Linked DNA regions of Homo sapiens. The protein of the gene in region 4 interacts with the protein of the main gene of each other region in a biochemical or structural test. Each region holds a gene or a part of one and is shown on either strand. Other genes may lie near its edges. The genes, in order: PELI1, BIRC3, TRIM25 and UBE2V1.

Region 1 (7,026 bases), on a different chromosome or scaffold from region 4:
CTGCTTGAACAGCAAACACCCAACTGATCATTTAAATTGCCTGAATTTTTAAAACTTGAATTTGATAGAAAATGAGCCAGGTTTTTCCCTGTTAGAAGAGATTGTTTTTACCTGTTAGAAGAAAATGCAGGCAACTTTGGGAAGGACGTGCAACTTTTATGGTTACGAAGCCACTATTTAAATAGTCTAACATGCAACTTACAGGTGCCAACTCCCTAGCAAGGCTTAACTTAGAAAAGGCCTCAATTATTCAACCACTAACAAAGTTCCTTTATTAGTAAGAGATGCTTTTAAAAAAGAACCAGATACTTTAAAGTGTTACATTAAATGCAAACTCTTCATCTATTTCAAATGAGTATTTTTGGAGTGTGGAATAGAGTTGTTCACAGTTTTCACTTCTGGTTTCTCATTCTCGATTATGCAAAAATGAACTCACAGAGACGAATTCAATTATGTATTTTGAAAAGTATTTACTTAGTTTAAATAAATTAATTGCAAATAAAAATTAAGCTACAATATATAGCCTGAATAAAAATGACTAGAACAAATACAACACAGGACTTGCTTTCTTGCATTAGTCACAAAGCATGTGACAATCTAGAAAACTTCAAAATCAATTACATTTCTTTGAAAAAGGGGTAACAGCAGTTACTGATACATCACAACTAATAAACTTATAATACAAGTTTCCTGACATGCATTTCCTGAGTGAACCCAAATGATCATTTTTTAAAACAAGGAAGTTTCGACAGTTGAAGTAAAATAAAATAATTCATGGCTTCTAAGCAACAAGTTTTGTTTTTTAAAAACCAAAAGAAAATTCAGAACAGTTTTGTAATAGGATAAATTAAAGGTATGCTACCACATATAAAACTTTGCTACAGTCAGTTAAGTATTATACAACTTTTCAAACTAAAGGAAAACAAATCAAAATATTAAAAGAAGATACTGTCTAATCTAAAAGTGTACTGGTTTCTACAAGTGTCAAAAAAAGATTTGATGTAGTGCAACTGTCTATACTTGTGGTGCCTTTGAAAAAAGGGTGGGAAGGAGGGGAGAGAAGAAACTTTTCTTGCTTCTGGAAGCAAAAGACATATTGGAATTAGAGAATAAACAGACCATGCAGTGCGTCACTCCACGCTGCAGTCATTGGTGCTCATCTGCCAACCAAACATTTCCTTAAGTCTCACTGTGGCAATCTCCTTAGGATTCAAACCCAGAGTTAAGGCTGGTCTGCTAAAAACGGGGGCACTATTGTCATTCAACCCTTTAGATCTCTAGATTTCCTAATGCCCGAATAAGGCCAAATACAGAATAATTAATTAAGCATTTCTTTTTCCAAAAGCAAATCAAGTCACTCTCCTTTCTTGCTAATTTATACTTTTTCTTATGGCAATGATTTTTTTCTAGAAACAGTGAACAGATGAACCACAGTTTATATCCAAAAAATAAACTTGCCAAATGCTGCTGATACTAAAAACAGATTAGTTATCATGGGAGAAAAATAGATAATCTAGATTAAATTGCATATCCAAAGGAGCATATAAAATGTTTCTTAGCATTAAGTTTTTGTTATAGTACTACGCTCGAGAGAAACATTAAGAAAAAATCTTTCCTGATTATCTTCAATGTTGTTAAAAACAAACACCTTTCACGCGGGTAATTAGTATGAATTTGGTCTTACAAATTACAAAGTATTCTAATTTACCAAATTCCATATTTAGATTGGGGTGGGGAGAGAGGCTCTCTCGTCCTTCTTCCTAACTTTGCAAATCCTTGAGCTAGGTTGCTCACTAAGCTACCATTCACACCAAGGGTGTGACACCATCGTTACCATGCTACTCTATCAAGAACATTCTAAGGTATTTTCTATAATAAAGATAAATAGAAAAAAGTTAATATACATGTCGCTGTATTTTACAATGTTTGCAACAAACTGTAAACTAACATAGTTTGAACCAACAGTACCCTCAGTTATACAAAACAATTTCAGCACTGAGGATAGGTGATTCAAAAACACTAAAAGGAAGGCATCAAATTAGACTATGTCTTTTTCTCCTCAAAATATATTTTCAAAACTCAGAATTCAGAAGACTGATACTTTCAGAAATTCCTTTGCTTGAGTTTCCCAGATTTTTGCTCAGAAATTGCTACTATTTATTATAAATGTTTTAAAAAATTCTTCATCTTAATGCAAATGACCAGAGCAGAAAAACTGTGACGTGGACAACAGGTTCGAAAACCCAACTCACTTAGCTTATAAATTTATAATGTAGTCCTGCAAGACAATGGTCTGTTAGTCTAGAGGTCCTTGAAAAATAAGTCTGATGTAGCCTTGTTCACCAGCCAACTGATGTGCACAAAAGGGACAGGCTGCATGAAAAGTATGAGTACCATGAGGAAGTGGGATCTGGGACCAATAGGCAGTTGTCTTTTCTGAACACACATGCCCACACGGGCTAAACGCATGGGTTGGAGGGCCGGCGTCCACATAAAATCCAGCTTCACATCCAAGCCACAGAGGAACATAGGGACCAACAGACCTACACATAGGACATTCACGATCTTTTCCATCACGTTCTTCTTTGTTTCCCCAGTTATGATAGCCATGTACATGGCCGCAGTTTAGATATACCCATGGTTGTTTTTCATCTACAACGTCTTTCCTCTTCATACTAGGAAATGCTAGTGTGTTGAACCCTACAGGGCACTGAGGTCGTGCTGCATTGATTTCCTGTCTTAAAGCTTCTAAATGCTTCACGGTAGGAGTGTGGGAAAGGCCTTCTGCAGTACGCCATAACAATGTTGCACCACAGAGGTCAATTAACGAGCCATCTTGTAACTGATTGGTTTCAATTTCCACCTAGAGGAGACAAGAGTTGAAAAACATATTCACCACTCTGTTTTGGATTTTTACATAAGTGTTTTGGTTTTAAGTACTCCTTACTCAAGAAATGAGGTTTCCTAGGATTTTCACTAAATATTCAAGAAACTGACAGTAGTTATGAAAAATGTTAAGTTTGAAAATCAAGGATAAAATATCAAACATTAACATATTTCTTTTTAGCCTTATGGTAAAGACAACTTATGATTAAAACATCTGGCTAATCAATAAGTCTAATATTTTTAATGAGGTAAATATGGTTTAAGATATACAGATGGCAACAGAAAAGATCAGAGGGAGTGCTGTTTAGTTTAAGAAAGCTTAGGTTTTAAAATATATTAACATGATATGACAGAAGAATGAACTTCCAGAGTTTACTAAAATGCTCTTGTTGCCCAGGCTGGAGTGCAATGGCGCAATCTTGGCTCACCGCAACCTCTGCCTGCCAGGTTCAAGCTATTCTCCTGCCTCAGCCTCCCGAGTAGCTGGGATTACAGGCATGCGCCACCATGCCTGGCTTATTTTGTATTTTTAGTAGAGACAGGGTTTCTCCATGTGGCTCAGGCTGGTCTCGAACTCCTGATCTCAGGTGATCCATCTGCCTCGGCCTTCCAAAGTGCTGGGATTACAGGTGTGAGCCACCGCGCCCGGCTACTAAACGAAATATTAAAGAGACTGTCCTCTAGTATAGAATTTGGTAGTCAGTGTTTGATAGACTTAGTATTCTGTGTTGGCAATAGATTTAAGAGTTTTCTGGAATGTATGTAATGCATTCAGTTCTACTCATCCTATGTGTTTATTGTAGCTAATTAAGAAAATACCATTCAGTATTTACCATTTTTCCTCTCTGCTGAGCCGATCTGGTTTCACGTAGGCTAAATACATTTCCACACACCGATATTTCTCTCCATATTCCAGGCTTGGAGTCTTCTGTGAACCCATTGCGTGGATGCATCACAAGAACACCATTAGTGGTCAAGCCATCCATCTGTCCATCTGATGTCTTCCATTTGGCAGCCTTCTCCTAGTAGAAATAATAGCAGTGAGCTTCCAACTTGTAACTTGTAACTTGGAATGAAAGCTAGTATAAAAGAAAGCATCATTTAGAAAAAAAGCTTTTTACCCCAAGAAAGATGTTTTTTGATGAGTCAAATCCTGCAGCATAAATCCGTGCTGTAAAGGGAGGATTCCGTTCACATATGATTCTGCAGGCAAATCTTGATATAGTGCTTTGTACTGACTGTGTATCAGAATTACTTTGACTTCCAGGAACCGTGTCAGTTACTACAAAATCAATGGGGCTTTCAGTCGACCGGCCAATCTGAGGGAAAAAAAAAAATACCTATAAACCCATTCAAAGAGCACAGTGGAAAATCCATTCAAGAAGGGCACAATAAGGAGAGAACATTAGGTCTCTGAAATTTCTAAAGTTGAAGTTTACCATACTTAACGCTGGGGGCATCTATACTCTTGAAAACTAATCAGTCAGACTGTCTCTGATGAAGTAATCACTTAGAGCATGGAATTAAATGAGAACTTACAATAATATACGAAACCCTTAGGGAATGAAGAATTCAGGAACGGCTGAGATTTCTAGATGGCTGCAGATTTTAATTTTAACCCTTTTGGATGGAAATATGTGTATCATGTAGTTTTTTTCTCTTTAGAGATATTTAAAGAGATATTCTACCTTATTTAACAGAATATAGTGAACATATATAAGTAAATCTTTTAGGATGACTGCAGAACATTACACTATAAATACCACTTACGTTAAGCTGAAATGCAGTGATGTCTTCAGGTGCTACAAGAGGTATACAAGGCTGCTGGTCCTTATGTCAAGGGCTTACACAGCCTTGCTTTGAGGTCTTATGTATACTTCATATATTTTCTTGTTTCTTTTCTGTCAGGTTGTCAGCTATCACTCCTTGTTTTTGGTCATGCTTGTTTCCAGCAACAAGCCCCTCTTTTAACTGGCTACTCTTACTCTGTTATGGGTTGAGAAATCAAATAACCTATTTCAGAGAAAAGTATTTCAAAAGGTTCTGGTGAGAGCCTAAGGGATCCTCTAGGGAGAATAGAAAAGGAATTTCACTACATCAACTTTGTGGCATTTATTTTATATATATACTCTTCCTGGTTCTTAGGGATATTTCAGAGAGACAAGGTTCCCAGATAAGAGTTCTGGATGAGTGAGGTGTCAGAGATTTAAAAATATCTTCAGAGGTACTAGCTAGTAAATAAGTTAATTTCATTTTGAAAGTTGAAAGAAAAAAGGAAATCAATGGGGAGATGACAAAAGTGACAAGTGTCACGGGGCTTTAAAGCAAACATTTGGAAATTATCAGTTCATGAATGTATTTGTTATAAAGTAGTACCATAAAATTGAAGAATGTGGGTACTGAGAAAAAATACTGACCCTCTACAAAGATAAAGACTCTTAAAAGTCATTCTTTACATATTTTAGCCTCAAGTTCCTCATATCGGCACACTTTCAGATAAACCTCTTTAGTGTTTTTGTCCAACTGTCAAGTATAAAGTCTTTTTATTTAGATTGGATAGTTTTAGAGGGAAACTAGTTAACAAATATAAGATTGGATATTCCTTTTCTTTATTCTTAAAAATAAAGATACCTTAAATGGCCTCAGATCTTTGAAACAAAAAATATTCCCCCAAATAAAAAGGCTCTTTAAAAGCTAAAAGATATAGGCCAAGGATTGAACTAATATTCAGAATCAACAGAAGTAGCACTTATTTGGAAAGAGACTGTTCCAGAGAGCTGACATTTCAACTGGGTCTTGGAAGAGAATATTTAAGACACTGAAGCAATATTTGTAATGACAATGAGAAGGAAGAAACTTAAGTATCTATAAAGAGAAAAAAACCACCATGAATGTGATCAGATGCCAAAATATGATTGTTAATAATTCTTCCCCTGCTATTATTAGCATTAAAAATACAGCTCTTTTGTTACTCTCCCTTACCCTCATGAGAAAACTCAATGGTTCCTTATAGCTTATCCAAAATTTGTAGTTTATTATTTCTGATAATAGTTAGAAACTGACTCAAGATTTGCCTCCCATCTACCAATCCAGCCGAATTTCCTGCTATTTGTGTATACAAGCTACAACAGCTTATTCGTCAATCTTTCACCACACTGTGTACTACTTCTTTGCTTCTTTGCCATCTCTTTTGCTAGAATGCTTTTCTACCGGTTGCTGGCAAAAATCCTACTTAACCTGATAAAAAGATCTACATGAAAAGGCACCAGTGTAAAGTCTTTTCTCCATCCTTCTTCAACACAATCAATGTGCTTAAGATTTACAGGGTCAGTACAGCACCTAGGCATGTAATCAGCTTGTAATGTCTCCCTTATGTACTTCATAGTGACAAACAAGGCATAGAGTTGGAGTTGGAATATCTGATGACTTGAACAATAAATGTTCTTGTTCAGTTTACAGGGTAGACAATCCTAGAATGTTTCCAGTACAATTCCTCAAAGACTGGCTAGTTTATCAAGGTAGTTTCTGATACATCACAGTCTTTTTGATGCAGAAATGTTTGGATTTTCCAAAGGTATAATACCTGTAGAAAGGGCATAATCAGTTTATGATACTGGGGAAAATTCTCTACTTTATGAAAAAGACAAAACCCAAACTGTTAAAACTTATTCAAGGGCCTTCATTAGATGGTGAAGACATTGTTTCAGAATTCAGGATGCCTGGTTTAATTTCAGTTTTGCCCCCAAGTAACTCTATCATCTTTAACTCACAAGATTTCAGTTAACCTCATCTACAAAAGATAAGCGGTAAACAAATAAATATAACGTACTTTCTGAAGCTAAAATTCTAGCCTGTGACCAAATATCTTGGAGATACACACACACACACACACACACACACACACACACACATATATATTTATCTATATTTTATTAAAGAGACGAAGTCTCACTATGTTGCCCAGGCTGGCCTCAAGCTATCCTCCCACCTCAGCCCCCTGAGTAACTGAGACTACAGGCCTAGTAGCATCTTGATTTTAAAAAAAAGCTAAGCTCATTCATTTTCACTGCTTGTCAGTGAAACAAAATGTGAAAAATCATCCTAAAGCTTTGTGTTCGGTTTTTCTTGGATCTAAACATT
Region 2 (7,026 bases), on a different chromosome or scaffold from region 4:
GCCACCATGGCCGGCTAATTTTTGCATTTTTAGTGGAGATGGGGCTTTACCATGTTGCCATACTGGTCTCGAACTCCTGACCTCAAGTGATCCTCCTGCCTCAGCCTCCCAAAGTGCTGCGATTACAGGCATGAGCCACTGCACCCGACCACTTCAGCTAATTTTGAAAAGTTCTAAAGGTTTATCTTAATTTGGGCAGGACTAATCCAGCCATTTGTAGACTGGCTATTTCAAGTGAGTATAAACATACATATAATCAATTTACTCTTAATATATTGTGAAGTATAAATATTTCAAATGAGTATAAATGTACATATAATCAATTTACTATTCATTTAGCATATAGGGAATGGTCAGAGATATTGCAGTGAAAGGCAGGTTGATATAAGCAAGAGGAAGGTGATTACTAGTTATCTACCAAGGCTCAAGTGGACAAGGGTCAGGAGCCCCTCAGTCTACTGAGGTCAAGTAAGACCATCTCTCCTCAGAGCTCTTAGCTACTCTCTTCAACTCTTCTAAGATTCTTAAAACACACTGATGTTGGCCGGGCAAGCACCTCAAAGTCCTGAGGTCAGGAGTTTGAGACCAGCCTGGACAACATGGTGAAACCCTGTCTCTACAAAAATACAAAAATTAGCTGGGCATGCTAGCGTGCACCTGTAATCCCAGCTACTAGCGAGGCTCGAGGCATGAGAATTGCCTGAACCCAAGAGGCGGAGGTTGCAGTGAGCTGACATCACACCATCGCACTCCAATCTGGGCAACAGAGCCAGGCTCCATCTCAAAAGAAAAGAGGAAAAAAAGTAATCAAAATAAGTTAAGATGCCACATTTATTAATCGATATTAACCCATTTCCCATTTAGAAAAAAAACAGTGCAGCTTGTTGCCAGTGCAGTATTCTCAGGGCAAATGGGAAACGGGTTGAATAATAGCAAAAGTTTTGACCATGAAAAAATGTAATTGTAGGCCACATGATTTAGATGAAAAAGGAGAGTGTAAAAAACTTTTTGAAGCTGATATTTTAGTTAGTACATTAAGTTTCTTACCCACGTGATAAAAACCCACACTTGCAAGCTAATCAGGATTAACTAGAACACTAGGTGGCCAGTTAAACAATCAAAAGGGTAACACATCACATTAAAATGCTGCGTGGCGACTAAAACAGATGAGATGAGTCTATACTTACCCTGACCACCCAATTTAATATTGTAACCTGCCTGGCATTTCTAAACTCCTCTTTGTTCTTTTTATTGATTGTACTTATTTTCCAACATGCTATAGAACTTATTCAAGTTTTTATTAGTTGTCTGTTCTCTCGTGCTATAATAAAAACTTAGGAGACCAGGGGTCTTTGTTTTGTTCAACTGATTTTATGCACCCAGAACAATGCCTGCCAATAGGTGATCAATTATTATTGAATACCGAATGAATGGAAATATATCCAAGACAAATGTTGACTGAAAAAACTTCAAAACTAGATATAATATTTAACTTATGTAAAATGGTGTACATTTATTTCTATATGTATATGTATTTATTTCTATATGTATATGTATCATATACATTTATTTCTATATGTCTGGAGGGATGTTCACTAAAGTGGTAACCATGCTCATCCTTAGGCGGTAAGATTTCTGGACATTTTAATTTTCCTTCTCTGTGCTTTTCTACAATGTGTGACTTTGTTTTTATAATGAGCATGTATTATTTAAATATATATATATTTCTTTAAAAATTAAACAAAAATCCCCAAATCTATTTCTTCGTTGTCTTAAGTCCATCGAAACTTTTTAAGTAAGTATTTTACTAAGTAATCCATCCTAAACTTATTCACAAATATATATTTGGAACAGAGTAAAGTAACAACTGATTTCAGGTGAACACATATAAGCAATCTCATGATAATCACAAGAATTTGCAAAGAGAATTTCAAAACAATTACCTTGGAAACCACTTGGCATGTTGAACCCATGGATCATCTCCAGATTCCCAACACCTGAGTCCACCATCACAGCAAAAGCATTTGACATCATCACTGTTACCTAAAATTAATTTTAGACCAAAACTTATGAATACACATAATTTGCCCACTAAAATGTATAAAATGAAATATATTTTTTTTAATTAGCAGATTCAGTTTCTTACCCACATAATAAAAACCCGCACTTGCAAGCTGCTCAGGATTAACTAGAACACTAGAGGGCCAGTTAAAGAATGTTTTAAAGCGGGCTGCATGTGTCTGCATGCTCAGATTAGAAACTGTGTATCTTGAAGTGTCTTGAAGCTGATTTTCTATAAATGGGCATTTGGGAAAATGTCTCAGGTGTTCTGACATAGCATTATCCTTCGGTTCCCAATTGCTCAATTTTCCACCACAGGCAAAGCAAGCCACTCTGTCTCCAGGTCCTATGTAGTAAAAGCCTGCTTTTGCCAGATCTGTTGGCGACAGAAAAGTCAATGGCCATGTCTGAAAAGTAAGTAATCTGGCATTTTCGTTATTCATTGCACAGTGGTAGGAACTTCTCATCAAGGCAGAAAAATCTTGATTTGCTCTGGAGTTTACAGGATTTGATGGAGAGTTTGAATAAGAGCCACGGAAATATCCACTGTTTTCTGTACCCGGAAGTAATGAGTGTGTGGAATTTGTTACTGAAGAAGGAAAAGTAGGCTGAGAGGTAGCTTCCAAGTTGTTAACGGAATTTAGACTCTGAACGAATCTGCAGCTAGGATACAACTTTTTATGCTTTTCAGTAGGACTGTCTCCTCTTTTCCAGTTATCCAGCATCAGGCCACAACAGAAGCATTTGACCTTGTCATTCACACCAGTGTAATAGAAACCAGCACGAGCAAGACTCCTTTCTGAGACAGGAACCCCAGCAGGAAAAGTGGAATACGTAGACATTCGGTACAGTTCACATGACAAGTCGTATTTCAGTTCAAACGTGTTGGCGCTTTTCATCAAATTTGATAAGAATATGCTGTTTTCTACTATGTTCATAATGAAATGAATGGGGAAGAAAAGGGACTAGCCTTTCTCTAGGGAGGTAGTTTTGTGCATGGCTTTGCTTTTATCAGTTTTAATACTAGGCTGAAAAGCCAAAATGAAAAATTTTTTATTATTTTTATTTCTATGCATTTAGAGTTTCAACATGGAGATTCTAAATCCTATACTGATACATTTTAAGGAAGAAATACACAATTGCACCTTTGTATAATCTTTATACATACAATGTAAACATGATGCTACAGAGTAAGCTGTGTTGAAAATTAAAACCCTTCACAGAAGAGTGATGTGTATTAAGCCATCAGGATGCCATTTAATGGCAGGCATCTCCACAGGTAGGTCAACTTCTCCAGGCTACTAGAATGTTTCAGTGGCATTCAATCAACCCAAAGATGTAATGTGTGACTCATGAAGCTTCTTTTCATGGTGGAAAGCTCTGCTGTCAAGTGTTTCACAGCAAAAATATTCAGAATATGTTTATTTTGCTTTTTGGAAATTGTGAAATTTAGTGGCCAGGAAAAAAAAGCACAAGACCTAACTCAAAGGAGGAAAATAATACATTACCATATTTCACTGATTCTAAGATGGCTATTTTAAAACTTCTGTTATCAAGAAGTATTTCATAATTAATGACATCATATTTTAATTAGAAGCACTTTTATTTCTTAGAGGTACGTAAAATAATGGTAAGATTTACAACTGAAGACATTTTGAATTCAGTGAAATATGATATATCCCCAATTTTTCTCCAATTAGTCATTTTTTTCTTTCTACAATCCTTCTAATAAGGAGAACAAAACAATCTAAAATTTCTCTCCAAATAAAGAGATTTACTAGTAACAGGACTGGCTAACACATCTTAAAACCTGGTTTCAATATTAATTAAATAATAGTTATTTCCCATAGATCATCAGGAATATGATTGCTTAAGTATAATGATACTATTAGATCTTACACAATTAAATATTCTATTTAAAATAAATAATCAGAGATTAATGTGTTTGTTCATTTGGTCTTTTGGACTCAGTTTCATGCTGTTGAAGCAACTCAATGTTAAGTTTTTTTATTCTAATAGTATACTTGGCTAGAACATGGAAATGTCCTCTGTAATTATGGTAGACAACAGGTGCTGCAAAAAGAGACTCTGCCCAAACTACCAATAACAAAACTGAACTTCATTGCTATATTCAGGTTACTTTTGGAAAAACAGAATCATGATATATATTTCATTCCCTTTGTTAAAAATTTTCTTAAGATAATTTAGATATGGCTGTAAAATAAGACCTTTCAAAGATTTTAAATTTTTTGTCCCCCTCAAAGAACTAACATTGTAGAGTTATTCAACTTATCACCTCCTGAAAACATTTTTGAACTTTTGTTTTTCTAAATGTTTCTGAAGCCAACATCAAATCTACTCTGATAGTGGATTTATTTTTTAAAACAGTCAAAAGTTACCAGATGCCATCTGTAGGCTAAGATGGATAATCAAATTGCATCAATTTAGTTTTGGTCAGAAATTATTTCATGGATAGCATACCTTGAACCAGAATTTATCATGACAAAAAAAATAATAAATTTACCATTTCAACAGCAGAGACCTTGTCAAAATTCAGAATTTCTCAATTATGATTTACTAGCCATTAGTAAAGAGGTTCTGAGTCGATAATACTAGCAATGACCAATAAGCAAGTCACTGTGGCTTTTTTTTTTTTTTTTTTTTTTTTTTACCAGTGGTTTGCAAGCATGGTTTCCTGGATCTCACAGACGTTGGGCTTTTCAACTGCAGACTTCAATGCTTTGTTTCCAGGTGGCAGGAGAAACATCACATCTCATTACCAACAATTATTTCCCTCAAAGGTAAGTAATTGTATCTAACTTCAATATTCCTTTCCCTGGCCAAAAATTTTACACATTGTTATAAAAATCTTCTTTGTATTCATCACTGTCTTTATATTAATTTTCTAAGTTTCTTCATTTCCTAAAATGTAACCTTCAACCATCATTCTCATCCTCATCATTCTCAGCGGTAACAGCCCATTTAAACAAACTTTTGGACGTTTAAAATATCAGTGGCCTTGTAAATAACTGGATAATTTCTTGACCAATCATCACATTTATCTTTTTACTTCCTCTAAATTTGTTGCACATATCAAAAAGCTTTGTTCTTGATTTTTCTTTGTCACTGTAGAAGTATTTTAATGTGTCAAAACTTTCATCTGCATGTTTCTTTAATTTGCAGTGGATTGATTATTAGCTCTTTGTTCCAAATAACTGTCACTCATTTTAAAATCTTTCCCAAACACAGGTACTATTTCTATTCTACATAATGGGAGAATGTGCCAGTAGGAGACTGCCTGGCCAACTCTGAAAAAAATGCTTTAACAATATGCCCCAGCTAGAATCACTTTTCCTTTATTTCCACAAATCAAATTCAAAATCAAACTCATTATGGTATACCTTATATAACTCGATCATGTTTATAAAATTAGCATTCTTTGGATAGTAAAACACCAGTTAATACTTAATTTGTTTACCCATGCACAAAACTACCTCCCGAGATTAGACTAAGTCCCTTTAAGGATTTTAGGTCTCCATTTTGAGATGTTTTGATTTATAGAAGAAACTGAAAAAAAAATCTAGAAGAAGTCGTTTTCCTCCTTTGTAAACCTGTTCAAAAACAAACAAAAAGACAGTTTTAAAACTCAAACGACTCATGGATGGAACACAATGACTTTTTAAAAAATCATTTTCTCCAAAATAGAGTACTAGTAATTACTGATCGTTTACCATGTATCAGGTGCTTTACTAGGCACTGTAGAGGCCAAAAAGAGATAAAAAACAGAGGCCTCTGCCTGGTGCAGTGGCTCACGCCTGTAATCCCAGCATTTTGGGAGGCCAAGACAAGTGGATCACTTGAGGTCAGGAGTTCAAAACCAGCCTGGCCAAAATGGTGAAACCCCATCTCTACTAAAAATACAAAAATTAGCTGGGTGTGGTGGTACGCGCCTGTAATCCCAGCTACTCCGGAGGCTGAGGCAGGAGAATCATGTGAGCCTGGGAGGTGGAGGTTGCAGTGGGCCGAAATAGTGCCACTACACTCCAGCCTGGGTGACACAGCAAGACTCTGTCTCAAAAATAAAATAAAATAAAATAAAACCCAGAGGTTTCAAACTGGAAGACATATTATGTTTGGCTTACATAGAATTGCATTATAGTTCTTTACTAAGTTTTTATTTTTATTTTGAAATTTATTTATACTTAGAGAAAGCTTACAAAAATAATAGTTTCTGCATACTCTGCACTTAGCTTCCCCAAAGCTAACATCTTACCTAATTACAGTGCAATTAAAGAAACCAGAAAATTCACATTGTACCATGCTGTAGATTAATCTGCATGCCTCATTTGAATTTAATCCAGTTTCCAAATCCATTTTTTTCTTGGACCACAGTATTTTTAAATCTTACCATTAATTGCCAACATGTTTAAATGTAAGAGACTTCCCATCACATTCTAGATTCCAAGCTTCTCTTGAAACATCAAAAGATCTAGCAACACTGGGCCTATAGTCCTGCAGGGCAGCAATCAGCTAAAGCTGAGCAGCAGCTGTGCCCTTTAGAGAGGGAACATGTTCTCTTTGATTCCCTGACACTGGGACTGACTGTTCTGGTAGTCTCCACTAACAGTAACAGTCTAGCAATAACAGACTGTTGCTATTTGTCATTGAACTGGCACTATTGTTTTTCTTACAGCAGAATTATGAGAAAGTGAAATCAATGTAACACATGTGTCCATCAAAAGTAACAAAAATGAAAAGTAGAGAAAAAGGACATATGTTTTGAGAAAAATAGGATAATTTTTGTCTTTGTGGAAAGGAAGGATATTCCTTCATATCAAATACGTAAACAGAGTATGCTTTCATTTAAAAGAGACACCCCACAAGGCCTCATGCCATGGCTCACTCCTGTAATCCCAGCACTTTGGGAGGCTGAGGTAGATGGATTGCTTGAGCCCAGGTGTTTGA
Region 3 (7,026 bases), on a different chromosome or scaffold from region 4:
CCCTAGAGTTCCAGCACGAGGCCTGAGATGCATTACATTCTCAAATATCCATATGAAAAGGTCTGGGGTCTCTAGTTCCCCAATGGTGACTTCTTTTCATATTATAGGAAGCCTGACAGGAGCTCTCCTCTAAGCAAAGCCCAGAGTTGGACTCATTTCACTATAAGAGGCTAAATTCCTCATACTCACATCCTGACAACATTAGGCTATAAGGAGCTTGGGGAAAATCCAGCCATCCATTCACTCCCGCCCCTTAGTGGACTGGGTTATTTTCACCACACAGAAACACTGCAGGGAAAATAGCCACTTGTGTGACCCTCTTTAGCTCTTTCCCTCCCTCCCTGATCAATGTGAGCTTATATAATTGGCTTAAATGAGGAAGTCAGTAGAAGGGGCTAGGGCCAGCCCCAGGCTCTGACTCACGCAAGGGCCAGTGCTGGGTCTGCAGCCTGTGGCCAGGGATGAACAGGAATGTTCCTGTTCCCCATGAGGTTTGCTAAAAGACCCCTTTGGTGGTAGGTTGACACCCCAGCAAGTGGCCTAGCATGGTCCGAGGCAGCCGCATAGCCTGTCTGCATGATAGCAGGCTTCAGGGATCCAGCTTAGCTGGAGGCTTGACTGTGCTAGCCTCGGTGGTACCTGCACTGTCATTCCATATGTCACAATCCAGGGAAGAGAGGCTATCACCGAGAAGAGTTGTCAGTAAGAAGGCAGGACACTCTAACACGAGCAAACCCACCAGGCTTCTGTTGATCCAGGGCAGCATCCCCCTCGCCTGGCAGAGTTCCTTGCCCCACAGCCAAGGCTATGGGAAGCAAGGCCTCCAGCAAAGCTCATGGCTGCCACCAAAGCATCTCTGCCAAGATGCTTCTTATGATACTTAGGAAGGATTTCCACCCAAACTGGATCAGGGTCACCATGACCCTGAATCACAAATCCAACACAGGCTGATTCCAATCATGGTTTGAAGCTTTAGCTGAAAAGTTTGCTGTTTGAAAACCATCAATGTGGGGGCGATGGGTGTGCAGGGTAGGAAGGGAACGCACTATTTTCCAGTGGAGGAAGAGGGTATGCCTCTTTAGGAAACTGTTCTGGGTAGAGACTGCTGTGGGTGTTTCCTCAAGCACAGATAATAACCAGGAGATCAAGCCCCAACATGCGGGTAATGGAGTTTATGTAACATTGAAACTCAATGACTTTGGAACTTTAAAAACATCTATAGTAAGAATTCAAAACACCAAGATCTGAAGGCTACCCCAGAGAGCAAAGGGGCAGCCTTCAGATCCAAGTGGCCCAAGACAGAACCTACAGTAGCTATGGATTTTCTCTAAGAGGAATCGGGCACTCATGACTTCACTTCCCAGAGCTCTGCCCAGCTGCCCAGCAGCCTGGAGATTTCCAGAACAATGGGGAGTAGGTCACCCTGCCCTGATAGGCACCAGGGGGTGGAAACGCCTCCTCGCCCACAACACAATCACTCTCACCCCTTTCCTGGCTAAATCCCACCTCCCACCCTCCCGCCAGCTCCCCTCCCATGCTCCCAATCCTTGGGACCTCTTGGGGAATTATCCAAGGAGAGTTCTGCCTGCTGTATTTTCACTAGGGTCTTGGGACTTCTGCAGGCAGTCAGCCCAAGTGCCTACAGCCTGCCTACTTGGGGGAGCAGATGGAGAGTGTGGCACCAGCAGAAAATACCCAGAAAGCCGGGTACAAAGCCTCAGTAAAGTCCACCCTGAACTTATACATCAGGTGGACCTTGTCGGCAACAGCGAAGAAGATGACAAAGCCGTGGTCACAGTTGAGAAGCACGCCCACCCGCGTGGCCTTGGTGGAGGGCAGGGTTTTCTCCACGTTATTGTGCCAGGCAGAGATCTTGGTGTTGAACCACTCCACGCACCAGGAGGCGCTGTTGCGGCCGAGCCTGCTTTCTGGGCCCTGCCGGTTCATGCTTCCGTAGCAGATGCCTACCCCACAGAAGTTGTTCTTCTGCAGCTCCACCTCCCAGTAGTGGATCCCCTTCTTGTAGCAGTGCAGGCCCAGCACCTGAGAGCAGTATGTGAACCTCTGGGGATGCGGCCGGTAGTTCTGAGGCATCTCAGCCACAGAAGCTACTGTATAGCACTCTGACAGAGCCACTTTGTTGTGGGCGGTGTTGTAGTCCAGGATGACTTTAATGTAATCTGAGAAAACATCACCCCAAGGAATTAATTACAAGGGGCCCAAAGTGCTCTTTTAGACCTTTGCCAAAGTGGTACTATTTATTCACTAGTTTTATCCATCCATGCACCCATCTACCCATTGGTCCATCCATCCACTCATCTATCCATCTGTCTGTCTATTCATCCATCTATCTGTCTATCCATGTATCCATCAATCCATCCATGTATCCATCCATCCATCTATCCATCTACCCATGTATCCATATACCCATCTATCTACCTATCTATCCATTCTTCCATTCATCCATCTATCCACTTATCTATCCATCCTTCTGCCTTTCCATTTATCCATTCATTCATTCATTAATCTATCCACTTATCTATCCATCTGTCCATTTATCCATCCACCCATCTATCCACCCATCCATTATTCATCAGCTCATCTATCCATCCATTCATCCATCCATTCTGTCCAGCCAGCCAGCCATCTATCATCTATCAGTCATCCGTATGTCTGTCCATTCATCCATCCAAAACCATTTACCAGGCACCTGACTGACACCAGATTCTGGCACAAGATGCACAACCATGAACCAGAGAGACAAGGTGCCGGGCCTCATGGAGTTCACACTCCAACAAGCAAGGCAAGTCCATCAGTAACAACACCATGAGACTCACACTCTGCCAAAAGGGTAAGCACACACTGTAGGGACACAGAGACAAGGCAACTGATGCTACAGTTGGGGAACATTTCACTGGCAGGCTGGAATTGGAGCCAAGTAACAGAAGATGAGAACTAGACAGAGGAGAACAGAGAGAGAAAAGCTGTTCCAGACAGAGGGAACAGTGAGAGTGAAGCCACGGAGTGCCAAGGGGATTCGCATGTGCTGGGATCGGGGAAGCTGGGTGGCTGGGAACACAGATGCAGCAGGAGAAGGGAAACATGTTGGGGCTAGAAAGGGAAGGGCTTAGGAGGCTAGACTTTAACTGGTGGGCAGCAGGGAGCCAAGCGAGGCACTCATTTGCTAGGTGGCTCAGGGCATGACACTTTTCACTGGAGCCCGAGTTTCCCCCAAGGCAAAATGAATAAGCTGGGGGTGGAAAAGGCCCTAAGTTGATAGAATTTTACTTTCCCTGTTTATGCGGCTGCCACAGAGTGCACAGCAGCTCCTGAAAGACGTGGCTCAGCACCGCCGCTAGCAGCTTGGGCAAGAGTTAGCTGCAGCCCAGGGCTGGTCTGGGCCTCTCTTGGGGGGCAGGGACAGCGGAGGGCTACAAGAAGGCCAGCCCTGAAAAAGCAAGGGACCCACAGATCCCCACCAAGCCTGCTGCAGCTGCTTATGATAAAGGAAGGGCTATATTTTTCAGTGATTGGCTTTGGCCTCCACATGGAAGTGGGTACCACTGGCAGGTGCTGCCTGGAGTGTTGCACGTGGGTGCAGAAGAAACAAGAAGACGGAAAGTGGGAGGGCCCTAGGCCTGGCCTTGACAACGGAACTCCACCCACTTCCAGGTTGGACGAGCTTGCAAAGGAGGGGTGGATGGAAACCCAGGGGGGTATAGCAGCTCAAGCGGCAAGGGGAGAGAGTGTCAGAAGGAGGAGGAATGCCACTGACAGGTGAAGCTAAATAAAAGCTGAAAGGCGTCCCTGGATTTTGTGACACGGAGTACCCTGATGACCTCAGAGCTGCCTGGGTCAAGGGCAGGACAGAGGTCAGAATGCAGTGGCACGAGGATTAGACTTCAGGCTCCCACCTCGGCCCCACATTGCAACCCTGGGCAGCCAAACACCAACATTCTGAATGAACCAGTCTGGGGGACAGCCTGGGCATCGGGGATTTTAAAAAGCTCCCCAGGATTCCAACACGCAGCCACAGTTGAGAGCCACCAATGTAGAAAATCTGCAGAGCTGCTTTTCCCCAACTGTCCTCAAAAGGATCATGGAGGAAATGAGCTAAACATACAGCTTTCCGTGCTTGCCTGAGTCTGATCTTGTAGGGCTAGAACAGGGCCCAGGAATTTGGTTTTTGGGGTTTTTTGTTTGTTTGTTTGTTTTTTAAGACAGAGTCTCGCTCTGTTGCCCAGACTGGAGTGCAGTGGCACAATCTCGGCTCACTGCAACCTCCACCTCCCAAGTTCAAGTGATTCTCGTGCCTCAGCCTCCCAAGTAGCTGGGATTATAGGCATGTGCCACCACGCCCGGCTAATTTTTTGTATTTTTAGTAGAGATGGGGTTTTGCCATGTTGGCCAGGCTGGTCTTGAACTCCTGACCTCAGGTGATCCACCTGCCTCGGGCTCCCAAAGTGCTGGGATTACAGGCATGAGCCACCGCACCCAGCTAGTAATTTGTATTTTTAACAAGCATTCGGGTGAAAGGGAGGCAGGAAACAGAGCTGCAGCTGAGACAGTTTTGCTAGGTTTGTTTTTGTGATTTGGAGAGATGTAAACGTGCTACAGATAGGCAAGCCTAGGTAGAGATGCTGAGGGTGAAGAGATGGGAATGGAAAGGCCTAAGAGAGAGCAGAAGATTCCAGAGAGCGTGTGGGGAGCAGACTCCAGAGCCCAGGGCCAGGGGGTCTTGGGAAAGGGGCCAGGAGGCGAGGAAGGGGGCACAGTAGATGCAGATGCGATGTCAATAACAGAGCAGGGGGAGCCCCTTCTACAGTGTCTGTCTTTTTCGTGAAGCAGAAGGTGGGCGGGACAGGGAGAAGGATGGAGCTATGGCCAGTGGGAAGTCTTGGGAATGGTGGCTCTGGAGAGTGGTGGGGAGGAGACAGGAGATGCAGGGCAGGCATGCCGGCAACGGGACGCCCGGTGAAGGCCGGTGACCGCAATCGCCCTGCCTTCTCTGCAGAGGACATGCAGGCGCCGACCCACAGAGAAAGGTGAGCTCAATTGGGCCAGACTAGACGGCAAGAGGGAGAGTCAAAGGACCGATTGTGAAATCTGAGCTAGTTAGGAAAAGTAAAGAAAGGCACTGATGACTGGGAGAAAATAAGGGAGCAACAAAGTAGAGGACAAGTGAAGGGGAGTGGCTGATATAGCCGGCCAGCTGGCCTCACAGAGAGCTGCACAGAGCGGCGCAGGAGAGACAGAACCAGTGGAACCGCGCACCAGCCCCGAAGCTACTCACACTCCAGGAGCTCAGGTCTGGACTTGGCCAGGAAGGTCTCCAGCACCTTGGCCTTGAGAGATGTTGAGTTCGGATGTGAGCTGGTGGCTTTGGCTGCAGCTGGGAGAGGAAACAGAGAGTGATTTGCAGAACAAACTCAGAGTGGACACCCCAAAGCTCCTTGCCCATGATAACTTACCCTCCAAGCCAGCTTGTTTTAAATCCACTAACTGTTCCGGGGCTCCAAACGTGGGAAGCTTGCTGGGTAAGGCAGGGACAGGGGCTGGGGGTAAGGAAAGGGAAATATGATACAGAGCAACGGGATGGCCTCTACTCCCTTCCACACTGATTAAGAGCCACTTCTACAAACACACGCCTGAACAGCAGGACAACACAGGGGAAAACAGACAAGGCTAAAGTCACCTTATTCATCTCACTTATGCTTGTCCTCCCCTCCAGCCTCAGGCCTGCTGCCATTACAGAATGGAATCATATAGAACCCATCACAGAACCCTGATGAGAGAGGTCGACTCTCACTACCAGCATTTAGTTCTGTGCTCGGGCAGTCTCAAGAAACGAACAGTTGCAGAAATGCATAACTTACGAGGTTTCTTGGATTTCTTTTCCTCTTCTGCAAAAGAAAGTTTTCAGATTTAATTTCTTTTAAGGCACAACACAATGACATTTTCAAAATAATAACATTCATGTGCATGAATTTGACCCAGACAAATAAAAGGATGTTTTAATTTGAAAAACAGAAGGAGTCAGCAGGCAAAATGAATCTATAGTGATAGAAACCAGCATGAGCGGTCGTGGGGGCGGGGACTGACTAATAAGGAGCATGAAGGAATTTTCTGGAGAAAGGGAAATTCTTTATCTTGATTTGAACAATGGTAACACATGTATGCATTTGTCAAAATAGATCTAACTGCACATTTAAGATTTACTGCAGGGAAAAAAGAGATTTACTGCAGGTAAATTATATTTCCATAAAGGAAAAAACACAAAAACCAAATAGGGAATCAGAAAAAAAAAAATGCTTGCCAAGGGCTGGGCGCATGGTGGCTCATGCCTGGAATCCCAGCAATTTGGGAGGCCAAGGTGCAGGAACCACTTGATCTCAAGCGTTAGAAACTAGCATGGGCAACATGGGGAAACCCCATCTCTACAAAATTACAAAAAAAAAAAAAAAGAAAAAACTAGCCAGGCCTAGTGGCACACACCTGTAGTCCCAGCTACTTGGGAGGTGAGGCAGAAGAATTGCTTGAGCCCAGGAGGATGAGGCTGCAGTGAGCTGTGTTCTTGCCACTGCACTCCAGCCTCAGCAACAAAATGAGACCCTGTCTCAAAAAAAAAAAAAAATGCTTGCCAAGTCTTTTAAAAATATCTGGAGTGTCTACCTACAGGAACTGAGTTTGGCTAAAATAGTCGTTCTCAAAGTCTGGTGCCCAAGCCAGCTGCAGTGACATCACCAGAGAACCCCTAAGAAATGCAAATTATTGGTCAGGCACTGTAGCTTACTCCTGTAATCCCAGCAATTTGGGAGGCTGAGGTAGGAGGATTGCTTGAGGCCAGGAGTTCAAGATCAGCCTGGACAACATATCAATATCCTGTCTCTACAAAAAAAAAAAAATTGTTTTAATTAGCCTGGCTTAGTGGCACATGCCTACAGTCCTAACTCCTCAAGAGGCTAAGGTAGGAGGATCACTTGAGCCCAGGAGTTCGAGGCTGCAATGAGTTCTGTTCGCACCACT
Region 4 (7,002 bases):
TTTCTGATTAAATGTCAGGGAAGCTCGTGGGCTGCTGAGTGAGAGGAAGGGCCTGGCAACCAAGGGCCACTATTTGATGTGCTGCAATCCTGGCCAAGGCAGGAGGAAGTCACCCGTCATAACATGGGGATTCTGAGGATCTGTGGTGGGCTTTTCACAGTTCCACCCTCTAAGACATATGTAGATATCACACATTGCAGAACCAAAGGAAGTGGGAAGGTGGTGTAGCCAAATGCTGAAAGCAGTGACCATAAAAAACTAAGTTCAGCCCTTACAGGAACTCAAAGGCTTCACAGCTGTTTCCTGGCAACCGGAGGCACAGATTAATCAAGAGCCTCACTCTAAACCTGACTAAGGAAGGCCTCTGGGCCCTGACCACACCTGGAAGACTTCTCAGGGTTAGAAAGCAGAGAGGCCTGTACACTCATTTTAGTTTACCCCAAGTAAGGTCTGCTTTACTCTTAGCACCCTGCACTCTTTTCACTGCCTAGGGACGAAGGTCAGATCTTATCATACTCCTCTTTTTAAGACTCTTATTCATTCATTCAACAAATATTTACTGAATGCCTACTTCATACCAGACACTTGTTTGATGGCTTCCCCTCATACCATCTCAAATCCAAAGCCATGTCTCTCCAACTCATCTCCTTAACAAGCCTTGCTTGCACATGAAGGCCTTTTATCCTGTTATTTCAACATGCCAAGCAGAGTCCCACCACAGGGCCTTTGCACTAACAGCCCACTCTCTCTCCTGCCTGTGACACTGTAGGGTTAGCTCTTTCCATTATTTGACTCAGCTGAAATGTCACTTTCCTGACCACCTCTCCAGACACTATCACATCACACAATTTCCTCCATAGCACTTACTGCTATCTGAAATTGTCTTATTTACTCCTTAACAGCCTTCTCTCCCTGACTTGAATGGAAGCTCCCGAAGGATACAGACTATGTCCATTTTGTTTGCTATCCACGATGGGACATAATAGGCCCTCAGTAAATATCTGTTGAATAAACAGACAAAAGAATTTTGGGAAGTCCATTTTAGGGCACCTCAAAGCCTGTCCTATGTTATCTAAACCATGCCAAGTGCTCTTGTATTCCACTAGACAGCAGCTGACATTTTATCTGATCACCATAGCCATTTATGAAGCACTCACTTTTTAACTGTCAGGGTCTGGAGAAGTTAGAACCGGGCAGCTGTTAACCCAGATTGTAGGTAGCCAACCGAGTGACTGCAAGCAGGGCTGAGCTGCAACAGCACCTTATTGCTGGCTACCACCAGCACACTGGGCCCCTTCGTTTATTACGACCCGGTAGGAGTGTTATTCTGGTGAGAAGTTTTACCCAGCAGTCTGGCCTGACTCAGAATCTCTCTTCTGGGAGTGCCTGGGGCAGCGTCATGGTAAATGAATTGACTCAGCACTGTTCCAGCTGAAACCAAAATCGAGTAAAAGGATTCATGGTCTCCGCTATTCTGCAAGAAGACCCCACTGTTTTAAACTCAAAAGGCAGCAGCTTGTGGTGGGTCACTTCAGTCAGATCCCCCACATTCAATTTCTTTTATTCCCACCCCAACCATCAGGCAAGTATGGCTCCTTGAGACCGCAGAGTAGCAACATTTATAAAGAATTCCCCTCACCCTATTTCCCATGGATCACCAATTCCTTCCCAACACTGCCGCTGCTGTGGCCTTAAATATGCCAATGATTGCTGTACTCAGGCTGGTGTCCCTGCAGCCCCACAGTGGGGAACACTGTGGCCCTGTTTGCTTCCTCCATCAGAGAGGTAACCCATTTTCACCCCATCTGAGAGAACCTCCTTGGCCAACTTCACTGCCAGGCACCTGAGGGTGCAGCCTCACCCAAGAGTTCCCATTTCATCTATTCACCTCCCTACTCCCATCAGCCAGTGGGGAACTTCTGAGCTGAACCCACATATCTGTCCCAATTATTAAAGGAGTCGATGAGAGTGAGCGTCTCCACAGAAGAGACACTTCTAGGATATGCTTCCCTCACTCAATTCAAAAAGAGGAGACTTTTCTCCTTTACAGGAAACATCTCCGGAACCCGACCTTTTCCACTCCCTCATTTCAGGGGCTTCCCTCAGTTGAATCCCCACTCCCAAAGAGACATCCTCGGGGCTCCCAATTCATCTGTTCTCCCTCATCCAATATCAGAGGCTTCCACCAACTGCCCCACTCGGACCTTGTCCCCTGAAACCTAACTTGAAGCAATCCATCTGTATCCTCGAACAGGAGACTGGTAATGATGGGGTCATTTCACTATCACCGCTATTAGGTCCCTCTGGCATCTGAATCCTTTTCCCTCCTCTCACTTATCATGCGGAGACCCCCTTCATTCTCCCCAAAAGCAGCTGCTCCAAGGCTCCTCCTTTCTAGTCAACATAGCTATTTCCTCAGCTAACCCCATCTCTAAAACTAACGCCGGAGCCGTTCCCTCAACCGATAGGGGATCCTCTCAAGTCACCCCCTCAGGATCCCGTTTCTTCCATCCAGCCTGAAGGGCTTCTCTGATGTCCCCTCCAGACATCCCAAGGCCCCTCTCAGCCGCACCCCTGGCACCCAGTATGGGACTTCCATCCGCTGTGGGGCGCCTCCTCTAGGGGACCTCTAGATCGCCCCTTAAGAGTCGCCAGCCCCGGTATCCTCAGGAGTGCCTCGGAGCTCGCTCCTCGCCCACTCCGGCTCCCCCAGACAGCACAGAGGGCCCTCACGCCTCCCGGGGGAGCCTCAGGGCCTCGCCGCGCCGCCCACAGGCCCCTCAGCCCCCCGCCCGTGCTTCCGGCCACCGCCTGCTCCTCCTCCCCCGGTCAGGCCGCGCCGGTGGCTGCCGCGGAGCCCAGCAGACAGAGGCGGCGCGGGGACCCTGGCTCCGCTGCAGGAGGCTTTGAGGGTCCCCGGCCCCCGGCCCAAGCCCATGCCCCCTCGGCCGGCCGGGCCCGGCGCCCCCGCTCACCCGAGCCCGTGGTGGCTGCCATCTTGCGTCGCTCTTGCTTGAAGGCCGGCCCCTTCTTCACCCCCCCCTTACCCGTCCCCCGGCCCTGATGCGCAGGCGCGCGCGCACGCACATACGCCGCCGCTGACGCCCGCCCCGGAGACCTGCACGACCCGTGGCCTGGAAGGCTCTTTTCCTTCCCTTTTAGAGAAAGGAAATATCTGCGTGCTCGAGGGCCCAGCAACCTGCAAGTCCCCACACATCGGGTGCGAGGGAGGTTGTGATGTGCTTAGTGAGAAGGGCAGGGGTGACTAGGCTTGGGAAGGCGCGATTGTGAAAGAAAAAGAAAATATAGCTTCAAACAAAAGCGCCGAATTCGCTTGGGGCTTTTTCCTGTCTAGTTCCTATCTAGATCCTCACCACATCTCCGCAAGGTCAGAATTAATGTGAAAAATGCAGCCGAGAGAGATCAAGCGATTTATCTAAACTCAGCTGTTAAGTGGCAGAGACAGGCAGAATTTTAACCTCCAGGTTCAAATTTTTTGAATCATCACCCTCCAGGTCAGATGATCTGGCTCCTAGGATTGATGCTCCCCGGCCAGAGAAGGCTTGGAGTGGGTGCAGCTAAATGATTTAGGGGCATTAAGGTGGCAGGGAAAGCATTTGCTAACCATCTACCCAATTCATTCATTCATTCATTCATTCATTCGTTCATTCATTCATTCAACCAAACAAACAAACATTAAGCACCTACTATGTACCAGACACTGTGCTAGGCGCTGGGGATGGATAGACATCTCTGAAGAAGCAAATCCCTGCTTTCAGGGACTTACATTCTAGTCGTAGACAGCAAGTAAATAAACAGGAAACTATAATTCTGATAGGGTAGAGATAAACCAAGACAAGAGCAGCAGAGGATGGTCAGGAAGGGCCTCCTAAGGTGGTCATATTTCAGCAGAGACCGTAACAATGAGGAGGTAGAGGGAACAGCTTGTGCAAAGGCCCTTGGGAAATATTTTTGCAAATAAATAAACCCAAGAAGGTACTCCTCCTTTATTATAAATTGTCTGAGAAGCCCTTATATGGATGTAGACACTGAGGCTGAGAGAGGTGAAGGGACTGGCTTAAGGTCACAGAGCAAAATACTGGCAGAAGGACCAGGACTCTAAACATAGAGGGACAAGGAAGCTGGAAGCCCTCACCCAGCACATCCAATTCATCACCTTTGTCTGATAGCAGTGCCTACTCTGCATCTCTCCACTCCGTTCACTTCTCCACTCAGGGCAAGCTGCCTTTATCTCCCACTTGGAAGACCCCAGCAGCTTCCATTCTCTCCCCTATGGCCCATTCTCCATATAGACCAACATCTGCTCAAAACACCCTCCAGCTAAAGCCTTCAGTGGCTCCCCATTCCCTCTGGATAAAATACAAACTTTACAAGTTGAGCGACCATAGAATTATCACCTAATGAGGACACACATCAGATTAAAAGGGGACTTATTATAATCTCACCAGGACAAGTGGAAACCAGGGCTCTCCAGGGCAAAGCAGGATGCCTGGACACCCTGTGCACCAGGCTCTGCACCCAGGGCAGGGACGAGGATGGGGTGGTCAGATTTAACGGGGCTTTCACTCAGGTCCTGACTCCGCACTTGCACAGCGCTGCAGGTGAGTGACTCCTTAAAATCTGCACCCTAGGGCAGGGCATGGTGGCTCACACCTGTAATCCCAGCACTTTGGGAGGCCGAGGTGGGCAGATCACCTGAGGTCAGGAGTTCCAGACCAGCCTGGTCAACATGGTGAAACCTCGTCTCTACTAAAAATACAAAAATTAGCGGGGCGTGGTAGCACACACCTGTAATCCCAGCTACTCGGGAGGCTGAGGCAGGAAAATCGAGCGAACCCGGGAGGCAGAGGTTGCAGTGAGCTGAGATTGCACCATTGCATTCCAGCCTGGGCAACAGAGAGAGATTCAGTCTCAAAAAAAAAAAAAAAATCTGCACCCTAGGTACCCCACTTGCCTCACCATAGCCTTGGCACAGCCTGCGCCTCTGAGACTTTCTGTACCTCTGCGGCGACACTGGCCCTTTGCAAGCCCCCTGGAACACATGCCCTCTCCCACTTCAGGGGCTTTGCCTGTGCTGTTCCCACTCTTCAGTTCTCAGATCCAGCACCATCCCCTCAGGGAAGCCTTCCTCGATTCCTCCAACCACATCAAATTCAGCTATAATTAGCTCTCAAAGTGCCAGCACTGGCTACAGGTGAAGCAACTTGACTTTTCGTGTATCACGTGATACAAGTTTGCTTTGGGGAGCACAGAAAATACTTGCCCTGGACTTGGGGTCACTGTAAAGCATCAGTAGCAAGTGGAAGCATTTGGGTTCCTAAGGTGGACTCACCTTTGCAGTGAAATTTTCTAGGTTCAAGTCTTCCTTCATCACTCAGTTTGCTTTGTGACTTCAGGTAAGACGCTTGAACCTCTCCTGGCATCAGTTTCCCCTTCTATGAGGATAGTAGTATCAACCTCATAGGATTGCTGTGGAGATAAAATGCTTTCCTAAAACCCCTTGGGCACAGGGAAGAGGAAGGGACACTAGAAGAGCTCATAATTACCAAGCCGTTACATCCAACTTTTAATCCTCACAACTCGATGCAGCAACTCCTGTGAATATCCCCATTTTTAGAGATGAGAAAACTGAGACTCAGAGCTAACAGGTGGAGAGGATGAGGATTAAAACACAAGCCTTTTATCTATGGTGCCCGTAAATGTTTACTCGCATGGATTCCTTGGCTCTTGTAGGAAACTTCTTGCAAGTAAAATTGACAATAATAATTCCCGTGCCGAGCTCATCGCAGGAAGAGGTTAGGCGGGACAGCCCGAGGCATGCTGGTTGTTGTAGTCTAGCGTTGGCGCAGTGCCTGATGGGAGTTGTAGTACGTCCCGCGCACACGCTCCCTCGAAGAGTTTCTGCCCCATTCCTGGACGTCACAGCCGGTCCCCAGAGCAGGATTCCTTCCGGCGCCTGCGCCTGATCACCGCTCTGCGCTTGAGCTGATAAACTCAGCTGATGGGATAAGAGTCTTGTTTTATCGGATTTTGGGGAAGATTAAAATGGTTAATAGAACTAGAGAATTTAGAAGAGGGCTTGGCACTAAGTGCAATATAAGTATTAGCTGCTATTATTACCTAATCCTCAATGAACCTTGCAAAGTAGCTGTTACCATTTCCATTTGTGAGATGAGAAAACTGAGACTTAGAGGAGTTAGATGGCTTTTCCAAGGTCACACAACAAGGAAGGAGTAAAATCAGTTTTGGAATCCAGTTCTCTTTACCCTGTGTCACCCGCTGGCTCTCCCGTGATGAGGGAGGTGGAGCCTGGGAGGTTTTGAGCTAAATGTGGGCAGGTTTGCCTTTTTACAAAGTGCATCGTGCTGCCATGAGGAGACAGGGCGAGGACACCCAATTGGGCAGCAGCAATATTGGTAGCAGGGAACCCAGAGAGAAGGTGTATTGGGCATGTTTACCGCCATTCCAGTCGCCATGGCCCCACATGGCAAGGTGGGTGTTTGGAAACTTTCCCTCCCCTCATAAAAGCTGAAGAGAAGGTTGGGCGCCCTGGTTCACACCTGTAATCCCAACACTTTGGGAGGCCGAGGCGGGCGGATCACCTGAGGTCAAGATTTCGAGACCACCCTGGCCACAATGGCAAAACCCCGTCTCTACTGAAAATACAAAAATTAGCCGAGCTTGGTGGCTCAGGCCTGTAATACCAGCTACCCGGGAGGCTGAGGCACGAGAATCGCTTGAACCTGGGAGGCAGAGGTTGCAGTGAGCCAAGATCGTGCCATTGCACTCCAGTCTGAGCGACAGAGCGAGACTGTCTCAAACAAAAAAGCTGAAGAAAAAGCCTATTTTTGTCCCCTTTCCTCCTTCCTACAATATGAGGTTGTAATGGTTAGAATTAGAATCCTGGGTGATGTGGCTGAGCTGCTGAAGGAATTGCAGGGCTGCCCAACTGCAGACATCTGAAGACATGAGATAATGTGC

The links.
Region 1: the proteins of UBE2V1 (region 4) and PELI1 form a complex in vitro, tested with the Homo sapiens proteins (3 studies listed by BioGRID).
Region 2: the proteins of UBE2V1 (region 4) and BIRC3 form a complex in vitro, tested with the Homo sapiens proteins (2 studies listed by BioGRID).
Region 3: the proteins of UBE2V1 (region 4) and TRIM25 form a complex in vitro, tested with the Homo sapiens proteins (one study listed by BioGRID).

Annotation. Positions count from the first base shown.
Region 1 is NC_000002.12:64,092,406-64,099,431, forward strand, and holds the end of PELI1 (E3 ubiquitin-protein ligase pellino homolog 1), read right to left. Parts: intron 4,873-7,026; exon of another isoform or gene 4,657-4,872; intron 4,206-4,656; coding exon 4,008-4,205; intron 3,909-4,007; coding exon 3,720-3,908; intron 2,864-3,719; coding exon 2,297-2,863; 3' UTR 247-2,296; downstream 1-246. UniProt on the Homo sapiens protein: E3 ubiquitin ligase catalyzing the covalent attachment of ubiquitin moieties onto substrate proteins. Involved in the TLR and IL-1 signaling pathways via interaction with the complex containing IRAK kinases and TRAF6.
Region 2 is NC_000011.10:102,320,483-102,327,508, reverse strand, and holds part of BIRC3 (baculoviral IAP repeat-containing protein 3), read right to left. Parts: intron 5,673-7,026; 5' UTR 3,000-5,672; coding exon 2,147-2,999; intron 2,044-2,146; coding exon 1,944-2,043; intron 1-1,943. UniProt on the Homo sapiens protein: Multi-functional protein which regulates not only caspases and apoptosis, but also modulates inflammatory signaling and immunity, mitogenic kinase signaling and cell proliferation, as well as cell invasion and metastasis.
Region 3 is NC_000017.11:56,890,050-56,897,075, forward strand, and holds part of TRIM25 (E3 ubiquitin/ISG15 ligase TRIM25), read right to left. Parts: intron 5,904-7,026; coding exon 5,877-5,903; intron 5,556-5,876; coding exon 5,472-5,555; intron 5,393-5,471; coding exon 5,294-5,392; intron 2,181-5,293; coding exon 1,651-2,180; 3' UTR 1-1,650.
Region 4 is NC_000020.11:50,110,132-50,117,133, forward strand, and holds the start of UBE2V1 (ubiquitin-conjugating enzyme E2 variant 1), read right to left. Parts: upstream 3,020-7,002; 5' UTR 2,998-3,019; coding exon 2,976-2,997; intron 1,432-2,975; exon of another isoform or gene 1,158-1,431; intron 1-1,157. UniProt on the Homo sapiens protein: Has no ubiquitin ligase activity on its own. The UBE2V1-UBE2N heterodimer catalyzes the synthesis of non-canonical poly-ubiquitin chains that are linked through Lys-63.